2 separate regions of the Homo sapiens genome follow, and region 1 is linked to region 2. Evidence: fine-mapped expression QTL. Tissue or cell type: fibroblasts. Region 2 holds a variant in brackets; the other region holds the start of a gene. All regions are shown on one strand. Distances are between the middles of the regions. Region 1 holds the start of A4GNT (alpha-1,4-N-acetylglucosaminyltransferase). Region 2 overlaps DZIP1L (DAZ interacting zinc finger protein 1 like).

The links. PIP is the estimated chance that this variant, and not a neighbour inherited with it, causes the effect.
Region 1: it holds the start of A4GNT, and the variant in region 2 is fine-mapped to the expression of A4GNT in fibroblasts (GTEx, PIP 0.93).

Annotation. Positions count from the first base shown.
Region 1 is chr3:138,131,081-138,133,939 of GRCh38, reverse strand. It overlaps A4GNT (alpha-1,4-N-acetylglucosaminyltransferase), which reads left to right and starts at 1,550. Exons shown (of 3, transcript NM_016161.3): 1 at 1,550-1,728; 2 at 2,658-2,859. The coding sequence starts at 2,684.
Region 2 is chr3:138,108,705-138,111,622 of GRCh38, reverse strand. The region is part of intron 1 of DZIP1L (DAZ interacting zinc finger protein 1 like); the gene reads left to right. Among named protein-coding and RNA genes, the nearest start is that of DZIP1L, 5.4 kb to the left of the region's middle. The variant C/T (reference allele first, on the strand shown) is at 1,424.

The DNA of each region.
Region 1 (2,859 bases), 22 kb before region 2:
TAATGTTTGTTATCAGGGAGTACAAATACCATCCATATTGATATAATTCTATTTTTCTCTTCTATTTTCCTTGGTAGAAAGTGACAATAACTTCTTTGGTTTAAAGAGAACTTTCATTCTCACAGTGAGCCTGAGGTCGGTCATTTTCTGCACTTTTCAAGGGAGTTGAGGCTCTGGGCAGTTTAGGGGCTTGTCTAGTGCCCTCAGCCTGTGGTGGCTGGAGGCATAACTCCAAGCTCAGTGCTACTTCCATCATGCTTTCTACTTGGTTCTTGGTCAGATAGGTCCTACTTTTGTGCTTGGGATTTCACTGCATTGCTGATGCTCACATTCATCCTCACCTGACAAAGGCCATTAACTACATCACTGATCTCTGCCTTGACCACTTGTTCAATAGTTTTAGCCACTGGGCTAGCAGTTGGGAGGCACTAAGATATGTGACCCACCTGAGGCCCAGGAATGTGTTATCACTCCCACAGATGGGGTCCTCTAGTTACCCCTGGGCAAGGAGCAGGAGCACTAATCTCCACTCCCCTTCATAGGAAAGAACAACCAATCTGTCCAATTACAGAGAACTTTGGAAAGATGCCAAGGCACTCTGAGCCCAGAATTAATGAGGTCCAGAGAAGAAATTCAGCTCCAAAAGGAAGAGGTTTGTGGAGACCTACAAGCTGTTTCTGGGGTCCTTGGACACATAGAAAACCAGAAGCCATCAATGAGTGGGGCAGCTTTAACTCCCTTCATGTAGGACCTGCTATGTTAGAATCTAAAGTCTGCTCAGGAGCAGGCCTACCTGCTCACACTAGAGCATCCAGGGGGAACTGTGAATACCTGCTCATGGCCAAGACAGGTGACTCTCAGCAGAGGATGGCTCCAAAGAAGATTGCTAAGAGCTCATTTCAGGGGCGGTGGAGAATAGGCCACAGGTGAGTGCTAACACCTTGGGAAATGTGGGGACTGCCACATCAGTGGAGGACAACAAAGCTGGCTTCCTGAGACTGGGACGAGGCTTATACCCCATAAGGGGGACCTTGGGGAAAAAGGAGCCTTCCTGCAGCCACTGTGACTGACACTGGGGAATCACTTCTCATTCTAGATCACTGGGCCTTTGGACTGCAGGGCTTTGTTCATTGCTTATTTGTGGTGATGGGCTCTCTTTCCTTTTAATCAAACTTTGTGCTTGCAAAGGGGAGTTTGTACCACCTTACAGGGTCTCTGTCCATAATTTTGATTCAAGCTAAACTGATCAAGTGCAGGATATGTTGGCTCCAAGGTTATGCCAGGATACAGTTTTCTCCAGGTGAAATAATCCCTTTATAACCCCCATAATAGATCCACAAACAGGCAGGATTAGTGTGTGGGTCACCTTAAAAATCTGGTAAACCCCTCTTGTTCCCAAGTGGCTGTGTTTGGGAGAACTTAGTAAAGGGAGGAGCTTCCTGGGAACTTTTTGTGTTTAGTCTCAATCTGCCAATGATTTACTTACCCCTGTGTTGTTGAGTTGGAAGATTGGGTGGTGATTTATCAGAAAGTGTAGCAGGAAGAACTTGTCATTTCTAAGACCTCAAATACTGGTTAACTGCATTTGCAGCTAGAAGTTAGGCTCTGATTCACTGTTTTGTATTTTCTAAAAGGGTTATATGTAATTTGAAAGATAGACCTGCCAAGACGTGAGATCTGTGTTCTCCTTGGTTAGAGCTAACATTTTTGGTGAGGAAAGCACTGCAGGTAACGGTTCAGAGCCTGGACTTTGGTGGCAGGTGGATGCAAGTTACAGTCACAGCTCTGCTACTTGCTAATCGTGTGATCTTGGCAATTTATTTAACTCTTTAGCCTTCAGTTTGCTTCCTTTGTTAATTTTTTTTCTTAGTTCTATTAGTTTTTCAGTTATGTTTTCTGAACCTAGAGATACTTTTGCCTCTTTTAATATTCGTAGTAGAAATTCATTTCTCTTGTTTTATTGCATTGGTTACAATTATCAGATTGTAACCAATGATGTCAGTGACAATGACAATGGACATTCATATCATATTCCTGATCTTAATGGGATGTTTCAAATGTTTCATATTAAGTATGATAATTGCTATATGTTCTGGTAGACATTGTTTAAAATCAGCTTAAGAAAGTTTCCTTGTACTTTAAAAAAATTGTGAATGGATCTTAAAGTTAGTCACATTCTTGGCATCTCTTGAGCCAAAATGATCATATGGCTTTTCTTCTTTAGACTGTTAAGATAATGCATTTTATCAATAGTTTTCCCTATTAACTAATTATTTTTAATGTCAAATCATTTTAAAATCTAAGATAAATCCTGATTGGTTATGATGCATTTTTCTTTCTCACATATTTCTTGTCTTTTTCTTTTTCTTTTTTTTTAAATTTTTGTGATGATTTTCACTATGCTGCCCAAGCTAGTCTTGAACTCTTGGACTCAGGGGATCCTCCTGCCTCAGCCTCCCTAGTAGTTGGGACTACAGGCATATGCCACCATGCCTGGCTGCATTTTTTTTTTAATATTGCTGGACTTGATTTCATCATATTTTATTTAGGATATTTAAAATTTAAGTTTTTAAATGATATTCATGTATCATTTTCTTGTGTGCTATCTTTGTCAGGTTTTGCAGCTGTGATTTTTAATTAATTGTGTTGATTTAAAGGAGCAGGCTGGCACAGAGAAGAGGACATGCGGAAGGAGCTCCAGCTCTCCCTGTCAGTCACCTTGCTGCTTGTCTGTGGCTTCCTCTACCAGTTCACCCTGAAGTCCAGCTGCCTCTTCTGTTTGCCTTCTTTCAAGTCCCACCAGGGGCTGGAAGCCCTCCTGAGCCACAGACGTGGCATTGTGTTTCTAGAGACCTCAGA
Region 2 (2,918 bases):
ACATTAAAACCTCATGAACTCAGACCCCTAATTCTGTGTAGTTGGGAGTGGGGCAGCCACCTTCTGTGTTTATGGAGTATGCTCAGAGTGTAAGTATGAAGGTTTCAGGGCTGCTCAGGAAGCAAGCTCCAACACTGAGGCCATATCTTGACAGTCAGCGTGGGCACTGCGACTTCTCATTGATATGCCTGATTCCACCTGCCGGGACTCCTGCACTCTCAGCTCTTATTACTTGCCCATGGGATTAAACTCTGGATGCAGATGGTCAACAAATAAAGCATTTACTAAGTCTGAGTGGCATTTCCCTCCAATGAGTCCGAATGAAGGATTCCTACTCAGCTTTTACTCTTTGTACTAACTCTTGGCAGTCCATAGCCCCATTACTTCAAGACCCTAAGAATAACAGAATTTTTAAGTCAGATATGCTGAGATTTCAACAATTTTGCTCCGTTCAGTAGCAATCTGGGTGCCAGGTAATGGGCTGGGGACTGGGATACAGCAGATACGAATAAGCCATGGTCTCAGCCCCTGTAAAGTTCACAGCCAGGGGAGTGGGGGAGGAAGGAGACAGAAGCATCCTGGTATGGGCCCTTCCTTGGTGTTCCCAGAGAACCCTTTCCCAGCTCCTGTCTTGGCACTTGCCGCTCTGTGGGTTAATTTCTGTGTATTTTTCTGTCTCTCTGGAGAAAAAAACTTTGGAGCCAGACACTATCACTTACTAGTTGTGTGACTGTGGGAAAGTCATTTCCCCTGTTTGTTTCCTCTCTCTGTTTCCTCTCTTTGATCACACTCTGTTTCTTCATCTGCATAATAGGTTGTTGTGAGAATTAAGTGGGATAATACATGTAAAGCCTTAGCACTGTGTATGGAAAATAATAGAATTCCAGAAATGTGAACTATTTTTATTAACAACGGCAGGGATAGTTGCCCAGGTCAACATTGATCCCGAGTGCCAGTCATGATGCCTGGCACTTAGTAGGGCCTCAGGAATCATTTGTTGATGGGATGGAGATATGAATGTTGCAGAGACACCCTAACAGACAAAGTGTATGCTGTGCGCTCTGGAAGCCCAGGGGAGGGGCAGGGAACTTTGACTGTGAGCGTAGCAGGGATTTATGGTGATAATCATTTATTTATTTATTTATTTTATTGTGGGAAGTTTTTTTTTATTATTATACTTTAAGTTCTAGGGTACCTGTGCACAACGTGCAGGTTTGTTACATTATGTATACATGTGCCATGTGGGTTTACTGTACCCATTAACTCGTCATTTACATTAGGTATTTCTCCTAATGCTATCCCTCCCCCAGCCCTCCATCCCCCAACAGGCCCTGGTGTGTGATGTTCCCCTTCCTGTGTCCAAGTGTTCTCATTGTTCAATTCCCACCTATGAGTGAGAACAGGCCGTGTTTGATTTTCTGTC[C/T]TTGTGATAGTTTGCTCAGAATGATGGTTTCCAGCAAGGACTTCATGACTAAAACACCAAAAGCAATGGTAACAAAAGCCGAAATAGACAAATGGGATCTATTTATTTTATTTTTAATTTTACTTTAAGTTCTGGGATACATGTGCAGAACGTGCATGTTTGTTACATAGGTATACATGCATGGTGTTTTGCTGCACCTATGAACCCGTCATCTAGGTTTTAAGCCCTGAGAGCTGGGATATCAGGAAGCCCGGTGTGTGATATTCCCCTCCCTGTGTCTGTGTGTTCTCATTGTTCAACTCCCACTTATGAGTGAGAACATGCTGTGTTTGGTTTTCTGTTCCTGTGTTAATTTGCTGAGAATGATGATTTCCAGCTTCATCCATGTCTCTGCAAAGTACATGAACTCATTATTTTTTATGGCTGCAGAGTATTCCATGGTGTATATGTGCCACATTTTCTTCATCCAGTCTATCATTAATGGGCATTTGGGTTAGTTCCAAGTCTTGGCTATTGTTAATAGTGCTGCAATAAATATATGTGTGCATGTATCTTTATAGTAGAATGATTTATAATCCTTTGGGTACCTACACAGTAATGGGATTGCTGGGTCAATTTGTATTTCTGGTTCTAGATCCTTGAGGAATCGCCACACTGTCTTCCATAATGGTTGAACTAATTTACACTCCCATATGGTGGTAATCATTTATAAGCAGGGCCTTGAAACATGTGTCAACCTTTAATTGGAACAAAAGGAGGTGGCAAAGGACCATCTATACCAAGAGGCAGCATAGAATAGAGGCTAGCCCAGACTGGAGCCAGGCTGCCTGGGTGTGAATCTTGCCTCTGGATCTTGGGCAAGCTTCTTTATTTCTCTGTGGCTTAGATGATAATAGTACCTCCTCAAGGGCTTGTCCTGAGAAATAGATGAGTGCTTCTTTGTAAAGCATTTAAAAACAGTGTCTATACATAAAATAAACAGCCCAGAAGTGTGAAAGTGTGGAAGGCAAGTAATATGGTAAATGGGAGATGCAGCTAGAGAGGTACTTTTGGAAGCAGTTCATCAAAGTCTTTGAATATCACTCAGTGTATTTGGAATTAGCCAATAAGGAACACAAAATCCATTCCCCTGTGGCTGGAGCTCAATAGTGGTTTCCCACCTTAAACAGGGCCTGCACTCTCAGGTTTGCCACAATCCCTAATGTTTCCTAGCCCAGCACTCCACAGATTTAGTGGTTCTAAATCAGTAAGTCTGGGGATCTGCATTTCTAACAAATTCCCAGGTGATGCTGATGCTGCTGGTCCAGAGACCACACTTTGAGAACCACTGCCTTATTGTACCTTGGACAATAAGATGGAGAATGAGTTGCCATTTATCATCACACATGTACTGTGGTTTCTTTCATATCTGCTACATTTTGTGCATTTAATGTTACTTTTCTGGCCCTGGTGGAACTTGGGTTTGCAATTCCTGGCATTATCAGTATGGAATGGT